4 separate regions of the Homo sapiens genome follow, and regions 1, 2 and 3 are each reported to be linked to region 4. The links are microRNA targets in miRTarBase. Many come from high-throughput screens and were not tested one by one. Region 4 holds a microRNA gene; each other region holds the end of a gene's coding sequence.
The links. Region 4 holds the annotated microRNA hsa-miR-3188 (AGAGGCUUUGUGCGGAUACGGGG, at 982-1,004, shown strand). A microRNA usually pairs through its seed, bases 2 to 8, with sites in the 3' UTR of a target mRNA and lowers its output. Matches are read on the target gene's strand: a 7mer-m8 pairs with bases 2 to 8, a 7mer-A1 pairs with bases 2 to 7 and ends in A, and an 8mer does both.

Region 1 (4,989 bases), not on the chromosome of region 4:
CCGTCACTTTCAGGTACACCAATCAAACGTAGATTTGGTCTTTTCACATAGTCCCATATTTCTTGGAGGCTTTGTTCATTTCTTCTCTTTTTTCTCTAAACTTCTCTTCTCACTTCATTTCATTCATTTGATCTTCAATCACTGATACCCTTTTTTCCACTTGATCAAATTGGCTACTGAAGCTTGTGCATGCATTAAGTTATTTCTCGTGCCATGGTTTTCAGCTCCATCCGGTCATTTAAGGTCTTCTCTACACTGTTTATTCTAGTTAGCCATCTGTCTAATCTTTTTTCAAGGTTTTTAGCTTCTTTGCGATGGGTTTGAACATCCTCCTTTAGCTTGGAGAAGTTTGTTATTACCAATCGTCTGAAGCTTTCTTCTCTCAACTCATCAAAGTCATTCTCCATCCAGCTTTGTTCCATTGCTGGCGAGGAGCTGTGTTCCTTTGGAGGAGAAGAGCTGCTCTGATTTTTAGAATTTTCAGCTTTTCTGCTCTGGTTTCTCCCCATCTTTTTGGTTTTATCTACCTTTGGTCTTTGATGATGGTGATGTGCAGATGGGGTTTTGGTGTGGATTTCCTTTCTGTTTATTAGTTTTCCTTCTAACAGTCAGGACCGTGAGCTACAGGTCTGTTGGAGTTCACTGGAAGTCCACTCCAGACCCTGTTTGCCTGGGTATCGCCAGTGGAGGCTATAGAACAGCAAATATTGCAGAACGGCAAATGTTGCTGCCTGATCCTTCCTCTGGAAGCTTCATCTCAGAGGGGCTCCCAGCTGTTTGAGGTGTCAGTCGGCCCCTACTGGGAGGTGTCTCCCAGTTAGGCTCCTCGGAGGTCAGGGACCCATTTGAGGAGGCAGTCTGTCCGTTCTCAGATCTCAACCTCTGTGCTTGGAGAACCACTACTCTCTTCAAAGCTGTCAGATAGGGATGTTTAAGCCAGCAGAAGTTTTTGCTGCCTGTTGTTCAGCTATGCCCTGCCCCCAGATGTGGAGTCTACAGAGGCAGGCAGGCCTCCTTGAGCTGCAGTGGGCTCCACCCAGTTCGAGCTTCCCAGCTGCTTTGTTTGCCTACTCAAGCCTCAGCAATTGTGGACGCCCCTCCCCCAGCCTTGCTGCCACCTTGCAGTTCGATCTCAGACTGCCATGCTAGCAGTGAGCGAGGCTCTGTGGGCATGGGACCCTGTGAGCCAGGCGCAGGATATAATCTCCTGGTGTGCCATTTGCTAAGACCATTGGAAAAGCGTAGTATTAGGGTGGGAGTGTCCCGATTTTCCAGGTATCATCTGTCATGGCTTCCCTTGGCTAGGAAAGGGAATTCCCTGACTCCTTGCACTTCCTGGGTGAGGCGATGCCCGCCCTGCTCTGTTGGCTGCACCCACTGTCCGACAAGTCCCAGTGAGAGAAACCCAGTACCTCAGTTGGAAATGCAGAAATCACCCATCTTCTGCATTGCTCATGCTGGGAGCTGTAGACTGCAACTGTTCTTATTTGGCCATCTTGGAACATCCGATATATAACACATTTTTATAAGTTACTTGGTAAAATTGTTTGAAATGACTGTTGTAAAAAGTGAAAAAAAATTAATTACAAATCTCAATATTCCTGAGGTACAATCATTATTTCACATTTTACAAATTAAATGTATAAAACATAATACACACACTACACCCTGAACAGTAAACTAGCAGTAATGTTTGAGAGGAAACTATTTAAGTAACTGAAATCGTTTATACAGATTAAATTTATAATTCACAGGAGGGGAACTCCATTCATCCTAGAAGGCTCAGCCCGTGGCACCCCTCCTGTGGTGGTTTCTCCCATCCCTATTTCCCCAGGCACAATCAGATTTACAGCCCTTTCTGCTCCCATTGCACCTATTCCATGCTCTATACCTACTGCGGAATTGTATGTTAACTCTTTGCCTCTTTACAGTTCCTCCTGCCCCCACCAGTCGACTATGAGAACCTTTGTTTTATCTACTTTGATTTTCCTGTCCTTAACACAGTGCCTAGGATTCATACATTGATTGGACAGGATTTTATTGTCAATTATGAGCAATCGTATGACCAAGTTGAGCAAGATAAACCCTGCTCTAGATTAGACTACTAGTTCACAGTCTAGTAGGGGAGAAAGTATGTACACGAATCATTAACATGCAGAGTGATACATTAATGAAGGTATATACCAGGTAGAGCAGTGACTTTGCCTGGGGATGTATTCCTGAGGAAGTAACTAGTCAGCTGAGCTGTTCAACAAGCATTAGGCATTAACTCTGCTGGTGATGTGCTGGATGGCTAGTGAATAGAAAATTGAATAGAAAGAGCATTTACCTTCCCTCCAAAGATATACAATCTTGAATGAATAGTTCGAGTAACAATGGCACGGGTAGTCAATAAGGTAGCAAGGCTGATAGCCAATGGGGTAAACTGTTAAAATATTGAACTCTTCTATACCAGTGGTAAATAGCAGTCACTACCAGCACCTGTCTATTTGTTCTTTACTCTACCTCCCCTCAGTACTCCCAATCCCCTCCTATATGACCCATAGACCCTCCTGTGTTCCAGCAAGTAAAGAGTCAATACCCTTATGTACTAAACATTTTACACATAATTCCAAGGGATGCACTTTGCCAAGAAAGAAAAAAATTACAAGCTTTGAAATAGCAGTATTTGGTAAACTGCAGTTAAAAGCCAGGGTATGAAGTTCGAGTTGGGGAAAAGAGAAAATGGAACTGAAGAATTGAGAAGGGCAATGAAGAGCCACAGAAAAATTTTAAGCAGATCTGTTTTAAAAAAAATTCTGTCCAACATTAGTATGTAAGTGCTCATTAATATTTGTTGAATATGATTATGCTAATAATAATTTACACAAACCTCTAACCAATGGGAGAAAAAGAAGCTTTCATAAACATGGACTTAGATGCAGGGAATTTATTCCATTATCCATACAAATTACAGACTCTATGATTCTACTGTAACTTTGCAATTGGTGATTTCAGTATTACAGACGTGAATACTGAGAAATAATTAGGGGAAGAAAATCAAACGTGGCTGATCTGGACTGTTTTTTCTTCTATTTCACTCAGAACTTTTAAACACATAGTATGACTAAATGCGGATAAAGGGGTTTACCCATCATTGTGAATAGGCATGAGATCACTCAGAAATGTTGGATTACAAAGGGCCAATAAGAAAGGCTTGACTGTATGCAAGTGTCGACAGAATGGGTTCTCCATTACTTTGATTCCTTATTTTCAGAAGAGATAAGAAATTCCTCATTAATGGATGTACTCAATGAGAATTAAATACTCAAAACAGGACCTTAGCAAATCATTGTTTTATTTTAACATCACTGTTTACTGTTCTTCCTAACTGGCAGTTACTCCTTTGTAGATAGTACAAATCACAATGTAATTCCCATCATTATGTGTATAATATGTGTTCCTTCTTGTTCTACCTTAACAGCAAGTGACAAATACATCATTTTTATTGAATATTAATTTTCAATTTATTTCAGCAGCAAGCACCAAAATCAAAACCCAACAATCAATATAATAAGTATATGTAACAAATAATCTGAAATTCAGCCCCATTAAGACATGTGGGTGCAATATTTTTATATTCCCAAAGGTCTGCATATTTTGGGGGCATTAAACAACAGGGAACTAAAATTTAACACAAAATCAGGTGCCATTTAATACTGTTTAACATTTGAAAATTATTTATTTAATAATACAGATCGTTTTAATGTGCTGTAAATATTTCTCGCACAGCATCATATTGTCAGAAGTTTTTCCCTTTTGGAGGCTTCTTTTTTCCATTCCTTTCCAGTAACTGGCCTCCCAATGCCAGCAACTCAGGTAGATTCATGCAGTCATTCCTCTTCTCTCTGTACTGGTAAGCGCTCTGGAGGAAGAACAGATTCCAATTTCTGCCAGCGCTCTGGGGGCCACAGGATATGTGTGGCATGGGCATGCAGAAGTCCTAGGGAAACCTTAATTCATGAGAAACAGAAAGAAAGCAATAAAGAGATCATTTTATAAGAATCATTATTAATAGCTTGAAAGCAGAATTTAATCCAGGTTTAACATCCCAGGGAGAAGTGATGATGAATAAAAAAAATAGTAAACACCTTTTGTAGCCATTGAAATACAAAGAAAAATACAGTAAGCACTTATATAGCATTTTTCTAGGTGCTATTGTATATAAACTCCTTTAATCCTCACAAAAACCATTTGAAGTAGGTTCTGTTAGTATTTCCCTTTTAGAAATGAGAAAGCAAAGCTCAAAGAGGTTAAAAAATTTGCCAAAATTCATACAGCTACCAAGCGGTTAGTCTGTGTTTAGAACCAAGCAGTTTGACTCGAGTCCACCATCTTAACCATTAGCCTCAAGAGCCTATTTGCATAGACCCAGGAAGCATAAATCTGGCGTATATTCTCAGAGTTTCCCGCAGAGTCATTGGTATCCTAGAGAGACTTTCTTTATGGAAAAATCACAGAGTCCTAAAAAATATATATATTTTGTGAAAAACATTGTCCCACCTACTAGATGAGCAGCAGGAGTTAGGTGTGAGACTGGGTGGGCTGTCTCCATGGAGAGTACACTGAGTAACACGGATCTAGTACTCATGGAGAGAGGTGGAAAACAAAGAGAAAGCAAACAAGGTGGGATGGGTAGCAAGGAAAAATAATAAAGTATACAGATCATGGCAGATGGTAAAGAATCCCCATCAGCAGAGGAGAGCAGAGATTGGCGAGGATGGAAGAGGAGGTGAGGGGGAGGACTTAAGGCTGAGCCCAAAGACAGGAAGGGAGCCCTTAAACATCTTAAATCTTAAAGACATCAATTTCGGTGAACAGGAGAACATAGCAAACTTGTTTAAAAGGCAGATCAGGGTCTTATCTTAAGAGATTACCCTTCAACAGGTCTGAAGGAGGGCCTGGAAATCTGTGTTTTTAAAAAAATTGTTGTTGTTATAGTTACTATCA
Region 2 (4,845 bases), not on the chromosome of region 4:
CTGGTGGCTCGTGCCTGTCATCTCAACACTTTGGGAGGCCGAGGTGGTGGATCACTTGAGGTCAGGAGTTCAAGACCAGCCTGACTAACATGGCAAAACCCCGTCTCGACCAAAAATACAAAATTAGCCGGGCGTGGTGGTGCATGTCTATAGTCCCAGCTACTCTGGAGGCTGAGGCAGAAGAATCGCTTGAACCTGGGAGGCAGAGGTTGCAGTGAGCCGAGATCAGGCCACTGCACTCCAGCCTGGGCAACAGAGCGAGACTCCATCTCAAAAAAAAAAAAAAAGAAGAAAAAAAGAAAAGAAAATACCACTCAAAATGTGTCCTGAAGCACTCTGTGGAAGTCGGGAGGCTTCAAGTGTCACTGGCAAGACGGGGGCATGAGCTTGTGTCCTGCACTGAATCTGAGGCTTAGCCTGGGAGGTCTAGCCCCTTGGCCAGGCAAGGTGTGAAAGGGACAGTAGAGGGGGACAGAGGCAGCTGCTGAGCACACGGGGCACAAGCCTGAAGGCAGCTCCCCTGACCAGCCATATGGAGAGGCCTCTAGGGCATGAGCTTACATTCCAGACTTCAGTATTAAACTCATTCCCAATGGGTCCTGCAGGCCCCTTCTTCCTTTTCTCTGATGTAATTCTTGGGGAAAGCTCCAGAGCCCAAGGAATGGGAGTCAAACACCTCTGACTTCAGAGATGGCACATGGCTAAATGGCAGCCCAGTGGAGACCTCAGAGCAGCCCACTCACCACAAACGAGATCCTACACAGGGTCCCTGAGCATGCTGGACTTTAAGACGGGCGTCTGATAAGACCCTTGTGAGTATTTGGGTAGGAGACCAAAAGCATTTCTGCAAAGGGTACACAATTAGCCCTGCTTATAGAGTGGGGGCAGCTGTGACCCGCTGACCACTCCTGGGAGGGGGCTAACTTGGGGGCCCAGGAATTTGAGCAAATGATGAGGCACAATTGTCCCCAGCTGGGCATTAGATCACATTGGGCCCCACCCTGAAATAATCCCTCGTCTCAAACTTCAGACATCAGTCAGTCAGCTCAGGAGCCATCCAACAAAACCAACTTCATATTTTAAACCAGCTTAATGCTACAAACTTTTCTAAAAAGTGCTGTCCAGCTGAGCCTCTGAGAAAACCTAGCTCCCTGAGGGGTGGATGGCAGGCCTCTCAGACCAACCCCTGAGCCTCTCTCCAGAAGTCATAGCCTTGGTTCAGCCCAGAGCACCCACATCCCAGGGTGGGTGGGGGAGAAGAGCAGCTGAGCTGAAGGGACAATGTGGGATGATCAAGCCTCTGGGGGAACAGGCTGAAGCCAAAAGACCCCCTCAGGACCCCAGGCCTGCAGAGGTAACATGAGTTCCTCTCCCCATTAGCTGTGAAGGCCTGGTCTGCCATGAAGACCTCTCTCTGTCACCCCTTCAGTATACCTGGGAAAAAAGGAGTGAACAAGTCACCAAGCCCCAGTCACCTCTGTCCTTGGGGTCTGAGTGAGCTCTGAGGGGTGGAGTCCTTAATGAACCATCCCCTTCAATAACATGGTGAAAAAATTCCTCCCAGGGAAGCAGAGAATGATGCCAGTGCCACATGGGGGGCAGAGGGGATGCTTTTGGCAGTTTTTTGTTTTAATCTGACCCTTCTTTACAGTGGGGCTGCCTCTGCCTACCAAGTCCTTGGTGCAAAATGGCTCCTGGACCAGCGCAAGGCAGAAACTCTGAGGAAAAGTGCCCGCCACAGCCATGACAGCTGCCCCCATGCTCCTGTCTGTTTTCCACGGGAGCTTGTCTCTGCTGGACCATTTTTACATCTCAAGGGGAGAGGTAAGGACTTCCTCAGGAAAGGGGTCTCCTGAGCAGGTGGCTCCTGTTTCCACAGGAGCCTCAGTGCTACCTGCCCTAGGATGGCTCCCTGGGACCATCTCTGGGACAGAGGCGACCAGGAAGCCAAGACCGGCAGCTCAGCTGGAGATGTGAGGCCAAGAACAGGGGAAGAGGCAAAAGGGCCCACAGCTGCCGTTTACTAGAACCATGAGGCCTAAGTGCAATTAGCATTCTAGCAGACTGGACAGCCCCTCAGAGTCCCAGCCCCCACCACAGTGGGGAAACCAAGGATGTAGCCTGGGCCCCTCCCTTGGAAACCCAGACCTGCCCTGGAACATGGACAGTGATGGGCCTGTCTGCAGAGGTCTCACTAAAAACTAGAACAACCTCCCTGCTAAAACTCAGGGAGGACAAACAAACAACTCAACCTGAAATAAATACAAAGGCATTATGTGCTTCTTGGTACGTCGAGGGTCCTAATTACCCCTCAAAAGGAGGTAGCAGGGCCTTTCCCTGGACTTGGCCACCTCACCTGCAGCCTTCTTGTGAGAGGTCAGAAGTCAGAAGACTGGATGGGCCTCCCTAGGCCCAGCTTCCATTAGGAAGGTGAGGACCACCCCTTATCCACTCCTCACCCGTACCATTCATATCTCCCCACACAGCTTCTGCCGGCTGGGGCAGGAAAGGCGAGGAGACCCCATGCCCTGAGGGCAGCACCTAGTGTCCAATGTCCCTGTGCAGGCAGAGGGGCTGTCAGCCTGTCTGTGAGGAGGTAGAGTCGGGGGCAGGCTGCTGGGGGCAGGCAGGGCCACTCAATTAATCAACAGGTCCCCAAGGTCGTAGGAGTCGAAGAGATCGCTGATGCCCTCACCCGCCTCCAAGCCCCACAGGTAGTCGTCCTGGTCCAAGGATGGGGAGAAGCTGATCAGAGGGGAGCTGCACGCCAGGGTCGGGGACAGGAACTGGTCCTCAGTCTGCTGCAGGAGTGGGTGCGGCAGCTCCAGCAGGCTGTCAGTAGCCTCCAAGGGGACCAGGGATGGAGGCGGTGGGGCCTGCTGGGGGGTTGGCGCTGGTGCTGGCACTGGAGACAAACAGACAAAGGTTACGCCTGGCCCTAGCATCCAACTCCTCAGCACGCGAGGACAGACTTCCGGTTCTCTGGATGACTGCACCCTTCTTCTCTCTCCTTAGCCTGGGTGGACTGTCGTGCTCTCAAAATCCACCTTCCAGAGTCTACACCCAACCCTACAACTTTTCATGTATTTTTTATTTTTTTGAGACCGGGTCTCACTCTATCACCCAGGCTAGAGTGCAGTGTTGTGATCTTGGTTCACTGCAACCTCTGCCTCCCAGGTTCAAGCGATTCTCCCACCTGAGCCTCCCGAGTAGCTGGACTACAGGCATGCACCACCACACCCAGCTAATTTGTGTATTTTTAGTAGAGATGGGGTTTCACCATGTTGGCCAGGCTGGTCTCGAACTCCTGACCTCAAGTGATCGGCCTTCCAAAGTGTTGGGATTACAGGCCTGAGCCACTGTGCCCGGCCAAAAAGGAAAGAAATTCTGACACATGCTACAACATAGATGAACCCTGAGGACATTAAACTATGTGAAATAAGCCAATCACAAAAAAACAAATACTGTGTGATTCCACTTACATTAGATACTTAGTCAAAATCGCAGGGACAGAGAGTAGAAGGGTGGTTGTCAGGGGCTGGGCAGAGAGGGGAATGGGGAATAGGTACAGAGTTTCAGTTTTACAAGGTGAAAGGAGTTATGGAGATGAATGGTGATGGTTACACAACATTATGAATGTATTAATTACCACTGAACTGTACATTTAAAAATAGTTATGATGGTAAATTTTTGTTATGTTGCCTCTACTCTCCACCACACACAACTATACCTGACCTCATCACCCTCTCCAATTACTGGCCCATTTTTCTGCTCCTTTGCACAGTAAACTTTCTCCAGAGTAGCCTCAGCTTGTCTCCACTTCCCTATTACTATTCTCTCTTCAACTCACTCCAGTCTGGGGTCTCTCCCCACCATGTCCCTGAGCCAGTGACATCCATGCTGCTAAACCCAATGGTCATTTCTCTGGCTTCATCTTATTTGACCTTTCAGTAGCCATTCTCCAGCACTCTATGCTCATTTCTTTCTCGCCGCCTTCTTTTTTTTTTTTTGAAACAGGGTCTTGCCCAAGCTAGAGTACAGAGTGCAGTAGGGTGAACACGGCTCACTGCAGCCTCAACCTTCTGGGCTCAAGCAATCCTCTCGCCTCAGCCTCCTGAGTAGCTGGGACCACTGGTGCGTGCCACCATGCCCATCCAATTTTTAAACTTTTTTGTAGAGACAGGGTCTCACTCTGTTGCCCAGGCTGGTCTCGAACTCCCAGGCTCGAGCAATCCTCCTGCCTCAGCCTCCCAAAGTGCTGGGATTACAGACATGAGCCACCACACCCAACCTGCTCATTTCCACTTAGATGTTAAGACGGTGATTTCCCATACAGGGACATGCAATGAAGCACTGGAAATTGCCTGCCACATATATCCTGATGCTCAGAATCCCCCACATTGCAGTCACTCCTTAAGCCCCAGCCAAGTATTATTCTGAAGATACAACTGCGCTGGGATGCTAGGCTGCCTGTTGAGACTGGTGGTGCACCCATAGGCATGTGATTTCACATTTTATTTATTTATTTAATTTATTTTGAGATGGAGTCTTGCTCTGGACTTCACGTTTTAGAGCATCCATTTTCTCCCCTCTGCATGGGGCAGCATAGCACTACCTACCTCAAAGGGTTGCTCAGAGGACCGCATGGTAAGTGCATATGAAGCACTGGTTTGGCCTGGTGCGGTGGCTCATGCCTATAATACCAGCACTTTGGGAGGGCGAGGCAGGCAGATCACCTGAGGTCAGGAGTTCGAGACCAGCCTGGCCAACATGGTGAAACACCGTCTCTACTAAAAATACAGAAATTCGCTGGGTATGGTGGCAGGCATCTGTAATCCCAGTTAA
Region 3 (4,910 bases), not on the chromosome of region 4:
CCCCAAAACTGCGCTCGACCCGGCTGCGTCCAGGGTCTCTAGTCCCCCCACTAGAGACTGAGAAGTTGCCTCGCAAACGAGCAGGGGCCCCAGTTGGTGGGAGTCCTGGGCTGGCAAAGCGGGGCCGCCTACAGCCCCCAAGTCCCCTGGGGCCTGAGGGTTCAGTAGAGGAGTCTGAGGCTGAAGCCTCAGGTGAGGAGGAGGAAGGGGATGGGACCCCACGCCGACGTCCTGGCCCCCGCCGGCTTGTTGGGACCACCAACCAAGGGGACCAGCGCATCCTGCGCAGCAGCGCCCCTCCCTCCCTGGCTGGCCCTGCTGTTAGTCACAGAGGCCGCAAGGCCAAGACGTGAGTGGGCTGCCCCTCCACCTAGGCTTTCCACCGTGGCCACTCCCTCCATGACCAGGCCTGACTCTGTTAACCACTACTTGAAGTCTTGAGGGGGAAAGCCTCCAGGGAGACATAGGGGCCTTCTCCCTTCTTCCCACCAAAGTAGGGGGTAGGCAACTGGTTGTCATGGAAATGGGGATCATCACAGTCCCCTTCCCCTTCACCCCACGTGGCTGGGCAGTGTTAAGGGTGGCAAGATAGTCTCTGTCCCCACCCCCTTGTACTTGATTCCCCAGCTGTCTTTCACACAGCCCCCCACCCTTAGGGGAAGGGGGAGGGGCTTCTCTACAATGAGGTTTTTTTCTTTTTTTTTTTTTTTTAAGAAGAAAAAATAATAAACTTAGTTTCTGTATGAGCATCCGCGTAAGGAGGCTTCTGATTTTCTGGTCTGGTGGAGGGTTGGGTGGGAACTTGGGCATCGTTTTTCTCCTCCCTCTTGTTCTTGCAAAGATCCTAGCACCTGATCTCTAGCCCAGGACTATATGTTCCAGGCAGAAATCTACCCAAGAAGAGGGAAGATTGGTGAATTTGATGTGGTAGGGTGCCTTTCCCCAGTCAGTTTGAAGTCACAGATATCCTTTTCCTCTCATTTCTTTTCCCTCGGTTCCTAGACGTTCCTCGGAGCTCTTTGATGCCTCAGACCTTTCCCTTTTATCCCTCTTGCTCAGGTGCTTCCTTTCACAACTTTTTCCAGAGGGCAGGCGTCCTAGCTCCAGTTGCTCCATCCCTTGGGCCCTCCCCTGCTCTTCATCTAGCCAAACTGGTTTGAGTCAGCCACACCCCTTCCCAGCTCCCTGGGCTCTTCACGTGGTGGCTGGCCACTCAACCCCACCCCTGGGCTTGGCTTGGAGCCCTGAGTCAGCTCCATCACCACCCAAGCCAAACCAAAGCTGAGGCAGGAGCCGAAACTCAGAGTCCTTCAAGGCCTATAGCCAGGTAAGAGCCCTGTTCATTTTTACATTCTCTGTTCACTCCCTGGGCCCTCCTTGTGTCCTCCTGTTGACTCTGTGCTTACCTCATCTGAGTTATTTCTTTGTATCTACTTCCCTGCAGCTTCTTGGCACACATCATTCTTTGCTCTCTACTTGTCTCGCCCCTTTCACCTTTCCTATCCTTCGTTACTTGGGTTCAGGGAGCCAAGGTGGTTTCATTTTGTCTGGGTTGTAGGGGAATGGTTGGAGATAAGGGTAGAAAGGTGGTTTGATGCCAGGGCCTAGAGGACCTGAGAAGTAGGGAGACAAGAAATGATTAAGTAGGGCATCATTTTGCAGGTTTCTGTGTGGTAATGAGGTCATTTAGACTCAGTGTACTAGTCTGATTGTGTTATGTGGCCTGGGTTAAATTGGAGAGAGGAGGTGGCAGGGAGGCAGCATAGCAGAGGAAGCCCTGACTTAGGGAAGTAAAGTCTTTCTGATGTTTGGTTTTAGTGGTAATAAAGGGCTTACTTGGGTACATTTTCCTTACCTTTCTCCATTCCCATAACTGTTTTCATGTAAAATGGCTGCTTTGCTTGAAACGGGTTGCAGTACCTAGGGTCCTGCTCTCTGACATCTATAATACTCAGGGGGCAGCCTCTTGGGAATTTGGGGGAATTGTAGAGTCCTTTGAAATACAGATTAAAATAACAGATTCATAGCAGCTTTCAAGAGTTTGTATTTTTCCTCCTTCTCGGTGTGCACCTGTCATTTGGCTTCTTCCCACTTGTTGAAACACTAAATAATACAGATAATGCCTTGTCTACACTGGCTTGCTTTCAAAGACTCAGAACCTCAAGCTTAGGTAAAAGGATTCCAGCCACACATTTCCTCTCCTGCTCTGTGAGTCACTAGAGGAATTCCCCAGTAAGGCAACATTCCTGAGTGCCAGGCTAGGCCATGAGAACAGAATGCTCTGAGAGGGGTGGAGTCTGAGCAAGCAAGGCCAAGGGCTCTGTTGTTGGGCTCACAAGTACCTTGACTATCGCCCACAGGTGATGGAGGACGAGGAGAAGGCAGTGGAGATCTTGGGCAACACGGAAGCTGCTCATCCTCCATCCCCCATCCGCTGCTGCTGGCTCCGCCTCCGCTGCTTGGCAGCTACTAGCATTATCTGTGGCTGCTCTTGCCTGGGAGTCATGGCTCTGGTGTTTGCCATCAAGGTGAGGAGTGCAATTCCCATGGGAATGGGGGTGGGTATAAGGCAATGGTTTCATGTATCTGATCTATCTACATTGACCAGTCACTGAATACCTATCAGTGCTCTGGGCCTAGTGCCAGAAATAAGAATAAGACAGGGTTCCTTGTCGTCAGAGGACCCATAATCTAATGAAAGAGGTGACAGTGAAAATGGGTAATTAATAGAATGCAGTTCATCAGTACCGTAATACAGGAAGCACAGGACAGTGTGGGAGCCAGGGAAGATCTATGTATGTAATTATATATGTGTATATGGTAGAATAGGTGACTGGAAAGGCATCCTAGGAGAGGTGACAGGATTAATCTTAAAGGGTGAGTGAGTAAGTGTGGAAGGGCATTCCAGATAAAAGGAGCAGTGTGTACAAAGGCCTGTGGAGCATGACTGGACCAGTGAGGAATAGTGAGAGATGAAGCTAGAGGACCCAGATTCCCAAGGGCCTCCAGTTCTGTGCTTAAGAGTTTTGACTTTATCTTGAAAGTACTGGGGAGGCATTGAATGGCTCCTGCAGGGGAAAGTGACATGGTCAGATTTGAGTTTTAGGAAGATCCACTCTCAAGGCCTACATCGAGGGTGAATTGGAGGGGGCAAGGCTGGAGGCCGCTGAACGGTGATGAGCGCAATCTCTAGGAGTCTGAAAGACACTTGGGTTTTTGAGAGGGCTTCACCATTTCAAAAAGCCTATTAGAAACAGCACATGTCCGCCGGGCGTGGTGACTTAGGCCTGTAATCCCAGCACTTTGGGAGGCCGAGGTGGGCAGATCACGAGGTTAGGAGATCGAGACCATCTAGGCCAACATGGTAAAACCCCGTCTCTACTAAAAATACAAAAATTAGCTGGGCGTGATGGTGCGTGCCTGTAATCCCAGCTACTGGGGAGGCTGAGGCAGGATCATTGCTTGAACCACGGAGTCGGAGGTTGCATTGAGCTGAGATCATGCCACTGCACTCCAGCCTGGTGACAAAGCAAGACTCTGTCTCAAAAAAAAAAAAAAACAAAAAAAAACAGCACATGTCCTTTAGGAAAGGCTACACAGGCTAACTTAAACTTCATGCTGGAATCTTCTCAACCCTAGACATATTTTAACAGTCAGAAACTGTAAGAACTCCTGGGTTCCATTAGGGCAAAATCCTAAAAAGGGCCCTTAATGATAACAAAGAGGCTGGGCGCAGTGGCTCACGCCTGTAATCCCAGCACTTTGGGAGGCCGAGGTGGGCAGATCACTTGAGGTCAGGAGTTCGAGACCAGCCTGACCAACATGGTGAAACCCCGTCTCTACTAAAAATACAAAATTAGCTGGGCGTGGTGGCACGTACCTGTTATCCCATCTATTTGGGAGGCTGAGACACGAGAATTGCTTGAACCTGGGAGGAGGAGGTTGCAGTGAGATTGCACCACTGCACTCCAGCCTGGGTGACAGGAGTGAAACTGTCTCAAAAAAAGAAAAAAAAAAGATGGAAAAGATGAGGCCCATTGGGCTATGAGAATGAGGTGGTGTTTGGGCATGAGTGAAGTTACTCTAGCCTCACTGTTTCTTGCCAATAGTTACAAATTCTGAATCAATCTTGGATAGTTGGAAAGAATGGGGAATAACAGAATTGGAAAGTACTTTCCCATAGGCGATCTTGTGAGCTATGGCCACCCTGAGAAGTAGGCAGGGCCCAGAGATGGGTACCTTATTTTGCAGATGAGAGGTTAGAATCAGAAACTGGAAAGGGAGGTAGAGGGTTTGGATGTGAGATTTTGATCCGTGACAGGGAAGGGGGAGCGGAGTGGGGAAATGGGCACCTTGGGGCAGAAGCAGGGGGAGAACCTAACCAAGAACCTGCCCCCACAGGCGGAAGAGCGGCATAAAGCAGGCCGGTCCGAGGAGGCAGTGCGCTGGGGGGCCCGGGCCCGGAAACTCATCCTGGCCAGCTTTGCTGTCTGGCTTGCTGTCCTCATTCTGGGTCCCCTGCTGCTGTGGTTGCTCTCCTACGCCATCGCTCAGGCTGAGTGACCCTGGATGGCCTCTGCTGAGAGCCAGCCGAGACCTCCTGGATCCTGCAATGCGGCATTGCTAAGGTCCTGTGACAGCAGTGGTTGGAAGGATCCTGGTTGGAAGGATGGGGACTCTCTCAAGGGGCTTTGGAAGAGCTCTTCTAGCCCTTTATAAAAGGAGGGCAGCAGCTGAGACTGATGAGAGGAGGGCAGCCTGCTCTGTTCTTTCAGGGCCCCCCACCCCCATCTCCCCTACCCTAGCCCACCCTAGGGCCTCTACCCAGCGGGAGGGGTTGAAGACCAGGCCTGGTTTTATTAGAATTCATTTTGTAATAAAAGCCTTTTTTAGTGGTGAAATACTCCTGT
Region 4 (4,657 bases):
GCCCGTTGGACTGGATGATGAGGCGCTCGAGCTCGGGGGAGGCCAGCTTCAGCAGCCCCAGGTCGGGAGAGGCGAGCAGGCCGTCGGGGGGTGCCGCGCTGGGGGCGCCGTCGGCGCGCAGGGGGGTAGGAGGCGGCGCGGCCGCAGGCTTGAGCGCTGCCGCCACCTGCTCACTCAGGCTCAGCGTCAGCGCGTCCTTCTTCATCATGCTGCCGGCCGCGGCCGTCGGGGGCGCCCCGGGGAACAAGCGGCCCGGGGACGCGAAGCTGCCGCCGCTGCCACTGGCGCCGCCGCCCAGGCCGCTCAGCGCCTCATCGCCGTAGAAGGGTGTTTCCATCCTCCGCCTCCCCCGCCGCGCCGGCCCGGGGGGGAGTGGCCGCGGCCTCCCGGGGGGCCCGCGCCCCCCCGTCCGCTCGGCCCTGCGCCCGCCCCGGCCGCGGCCGCAGCGCCCGGCCCTCCACTGGCGGCGGCTCCTGCGCCGCGCCACTTGTGCGCCCTCTTATAGCCTCGGCTCGGCGCGATGAGCTCACCGCCCCCGTTCGCCATTGGGTGCGGGTGACGTCGCTCATTTGCATGGAGGGGCGGGGCCAAGCCGCCGACGCCCGCCCGGCCGCCGTTGCCCCGGCGACGCGCGGTAAACGCCACAACAGCGCGCTGCCTTGTGGGTTGACGTCATGGGGGCGGCCGCGCGCCCGGGCCGGGTCACCCCGCCCCGGGACCGCTGTGTACGACCGATCTCCCCGGCGCCGCCTCCGCCAAGGCACGTCCCGGGTGGCGTGATGGGCCCGGGCCACCAGGCGCCCGCCCGCCCCGAGGCCCCGCCCCGTGTCCGCGCGTGGGGCCCCGGCCGGGCGGGGGCGGGGGCGGGGGCGGTGCCGGCCTCCGGGGACTGGAGGGGGATGGGGTCCCGCATGGCTAAATAACTCCTTGGCGCCTCCTGCTCTGCTGTGCCGCCAGGGCCTCCCCTAGCGCGCCTTCTGGAGAGGCTTTGTGCGGATACGGGGCTGGAGGCCTGGTGGGGCTGTGTCCGGGGGCTCGCCGGGGGTGTGGGGAGGTCTGCGTTCCTCACCCTCCCTCCTTCCTTCCCTCCCTCCCTCCACCCCGCGTGTGATTGCTCAGGAAGAGACGGGAGGGGAGAGGAGGGTCGCCAGAAGTTGCTGAAAGCGCTTGGATCCTGATCATTTTCACTGAGTGCGTTCTAGAACCAGGAGTCCTACTTCCTGCCTTTACAGATGGGAAACTGGGCTCAGAGAGGTGGAGTGACCATCCCCCGAGAGTTAGCTAGGAGTCACAGCAGGGCCCGGGCTGTGACTAGGCCTGAGCTCTTGTCCACCCTTAGAACCCTAGAACCTGGGAGTCCAGGCCCCTGCGCAGCCCCTTCCTTCCGCCGCCCACGTTTTAACCCCAGGTCTGCCAGGGCTGTGATGTCCTGGGCGAGGGTGCCCAACTCCAGGGGCTGGGCTGATGAGGCAGGAATGCCGGGTATAATTATTACATGCTTGTTACCACTATCATGGCTGTTAGGGCTTAATGAGCCACTATTAAGACTGGCTGGGAAGGGGGTGTGAGGGAGGAGAGATGGACCCACCCCACCAATACTCACAAGGGATCCTTAGGACATCTGGATCTGACCTACAGCCTCTGCATGCACCCCTCCAGCTCCCCACCTCTGTCTGAATGGAGCCCACACCCTCCTTTCCCTGACCTCCTTCCCCTCACTCTCTCTGATCCTTGGCCTCCCAGTTGCAGGACTAATCGTACCTCTGGGCCTTTGCACGTGCTATGCTCTCTGCTTGGTACTCCCTTCCCCCAGTGCAAAGATGTGTCTTCAGGAAGTGCCCCACCCTCAGACTTTACTCCTTTATTGTAGCCTCTGAATCTGCCAGAATGATGGAGTGGACCATAGTCCCTGAAGGTCAGGGACATTGCCTATGCTGAGCCTGCTGACAGGGCCTCGCATAGAATGGATGCTCAGTATTAAAGGTGAATGCGGGGCTGGGTGTGGTGGCTCATGCCTGTAATCCCAGCACTTTGGGAGGCCGAGGCAGGCAGATCACTTGAGGTCAGCAGTTCAAGACCAGACTGGCCGAAATACAAAAATACAAAAAAAAAAAAAAATACGAAAATTAACCGGGTGTGGTGGTGTGCACCTGTAATCCCAGCTACTCAGGAGGCTGAGACATGAGAATCGCTTGAACCCGGGAGGCAGAGGTTGCAGTGAGCTGAGATTGTGCCACTGCACTCCAGCCTGGGAGACAGAGTGAGACTCCAGTCTCAAAAAAAAATAAAAAATAAAGGTGAATGCAACAAAAGGTTGCTTGTGTGGGTGGTCTCTAGCCTCAGTTTGTCTGCCTGGCCAGTGGGCATGCGTTACTCCTTTTCTATCCTCCTTACTCACCTGGCTCTGCCCCCAACTGGGGCATGAAGGCCATAAGGGAGGCTGTCCTCATCACCAAGAGAGGTGGCCTGTCGGCCACACGCGGTGACTCCTGCCTGTAATCCCAGCACTTTGGAAGTCTGAGGCAGGCATTTGAGGTCAGGAGTTTGAGACCAGCCTGACCATCATGGTGAAACCCCATCTCTATTGAAAATAAAAATTAGGCTGGGCGCAGAGGCTCACGCCTGTCATCCCAGCACTTTAGGAGGCCAAGGCAGGCTGATCACGAGGTCAGGAGATCAAGACCATCCTGGTTAACACGGTGAAACCCTGTCTCTACTGAAAAATAAAAAAAAAAATTAGCCGGGCATGGTGGCGGGCGCCTGTAGTCCCCAGCTACTCGGGAGGCTGAGGCAGGAGAATGGCATGAACCCGGGAGGCAGAGCTTGCAGTGAGCCGAGATCACACCACTACACTCCAGCCTGGGCAACAGAGCGAGACTCCGTCTCAAAAAAAAAAAAGAAAAAAGAAAAGAAAAAAAAATTAGCCAGGTGTGGTGGCAGGTGCCTGTAATCCCAGCTAGTCGGGAGGCTGAGGCAGGAGAATCGCTTGAACCCGGGAGGTGGAGGTTGCAGTGAGCCGAGATTGCGCCATTGCACTCCAGCCTGGGCTACAGAGTGAGACACTGTCTCAAAAAAAAAAAAGAAGAAAAAAAAAATAGGCTGGGCGAGGTGGCTCACACCTGTAATAAGCACTTTGGGAGGCTGAGGCGGGCAAGTCATCTGAGGTCAGGAGTTCGAGACCAGCCTGGCCAATATGGCAAAACCCTGTCTCTACTAAAAATACAAAAATTAGCCAGGCATGGGGAGCGCACCGGTAATCCCAGCTGCTCTGGAGAAAGGAGAATCACTTGAACCCAGGAGATGGAGGTTGCAGTGAGCTGAAATCATGCCACTACACTCCAGCCTGGGCAACAGGGCAAGACTCCATCTTAAAAATAATAATAATAATAATAATAATAATAATAATAATAATAATAAAGACCTGGCCTGGCAGGCCTGGGATTCAAATTGCCAGGGCAGGGAACTGGAGGTGTGGGTTTGTTTTGTCTCTAGATTGGTTAGGAAGGTGTCTGTCTGCCTATTGGAGTGTGTGTCTGTGTGTGCACCTGTGTCTGTCTGTATTCGTGTTGTATAGACAGACGCAGGTACACACAGATACATACTCAGATCCATGGGTCTCTGTGCTCTCTAGCCCAGGTTCTATCCTGGACAAAGAGATCCCTAGTGGGACAAGATCCAGCCCGCAGACCTGTAGCCAGCCCTGCCCTGGGAACCCCTCTCTGGGTCCCGTGCAGTGGGGCCAGAGTGGAGGAGACGGGGTCATGCCTCTCCCTGAGGCAGGAGGTGAGTGGGCGGCCTACAGAGGCCCTGCCCTGAACTTGGGCCTCAGCCTTGGCAGCTGGGGAGATGGTCTGGTGAATGGTAGGCTGAGACAGCCTGAGCTGAGTGGAGCACTTTCCTGCAGGCAGGCAGGTGAGATACAGAGGCCTGTCAACCTCTCTGAGCCTCAGCTTTTCCTTCATGAAAATTGAGCAAATAAACCTACCTACTTTGTGGAGTATCGCGATTTTTTTTTTTGAAATGAAAGGCCTCACATATTTATTACTGAACCCAGCCAACCCACACGTTCATAACAGATTCAGAGAGGAAAACACGTCGAACTCTCCAGATAGTGGTGACACTTTCAGTTTGATATGCTAACGTGATCGTGACCTTCAGACAGCATAAATATGTGTGCCATCTCATGTGCAATTCCTTATAGACCCAGCTTGGTTCTTCTCCAGTGTCCTTTTGGAGTTGTACCTGATTTTATTTCCAGTTTTCATCCAAATCCACTGGGGAATGGGACGATTTTGCTTTTGTTTCTTGTCCAGGAATCGCTTAATCCTGAAAGTCTTGTAGGAAGATATGGCGAGAAGTGGAGTCAAGAACACACCACGATGGTGCAGAAAGGAAAAGCATTGCGATTTTTATTGGATTTGAAGAAATAGTAAGGGGTCAGGCTGGGTGTGGTGGCGCACGCCTGTAATCTCAGCACTTTGGGAGGCTGAGGCAGGTGGATCACGAGGTCAGGCGTTCGAGACCAGCCTGGCCAACATAGTGAAACCTTGTCTCTACTAAAAATACAAAAATTCTCCCGGTGTGGTGGCGCACGCCTTTAGTCCCAGCTACTTGGGAGGCTGAGGCAGGAGAATCACTTGAACCCAGGAGGAGGAGG

Region 1: miRTarBase lists IMMP2L as a target of hsa-miR-3188. Seed matches in the 3' UTR shown: 7mer-m8 at 3,802-3,808.
Region 2: the mRNA of E2F2 is a reported target of hsa-miR-3188. Seed matches in the 3' UTR shown: 8mer at 407-414 and 7mer-m8 at 350-356.
Region 3: miRTarBase lists SRCAP as a target of hsa-miR-3188. Seed matches in the 3' UTR shown: 7mer-m8 at 448-454.

What each region holds. Positions count from the first base shown.
Region 1 is chr7:110,659,730-110,664,718 of GRCh38, forward strand. IMMP2L (inner mitochondrial membrane peptidase subunit 2) reads right to left here. Exons shown (of 6, transcript NM_032549.4): 6 at 2,915-3,992. The coding sequence ends at 3,873. Among named protein-coding and RNA genes, the nearest start is that of LRRN3, 430 kb to the right of the region's middle.
Region 2 is chr1:23,507,244-23,512,088 of GRCh38, forward strand. E2F2 (E2F transcription factor 2) reads right to left here. Exons shown (of 7, transcript NM_004091.4): 7 at 1-2,905. The coding sequence ends at 2,637. Among named protein-coding and RNA genes, the nearest start is that of E2F2, 22 kb to the right of the region's middle.
Region 3 is chr16:30,739,381-30,744,290 of GRCh38, forward strand. SRCAP (Snf2 related CREBBP activator protein) reads left to right here. Exons shown (of 34, transcript NM_006662.3): 34 at 1-2,029. The coding sequence ends at 353. It overlaps TMEM265 (transmembrane protein 265), which reads left to right and starts at 1,262. Exons shown (of 3, transcript NM_001256829.2): 1 at 1,262-1,327; 2 at 2,361-2,528; 3 at 4,402-4,910. The coding sequence starts at 2,364. The coding sequence ends at 4,563. RefSeq lists an enhancer at 1,550-2,749.
Region 4 is chr19:18,281,148-18,285,804 of GRCh38, forward strand. MIR3188 (microRNA 3188) reads left to right here and starts at 930; the gene lies at 930-1,014. JUND (JunD proto-oncogene, AP-1 transcription factor subunit) reads right to left here and starts at 475. Exons shown (of 1, transcript NM_005354.6): 1 at 1-475. The coding sequence starts at 337. It overlaps LOC124904652 (a long non-coding RNA gene), which reads left to right and starts at 945. Exons shown (of 2, transcript XR_007067154.1): 1 at 945-1,983; 2 at 4,314-4,657. It also overlaps the pseudogene RPL39P38. RefSeq lists an enhancer at 1-460 and a silencer at 1-953.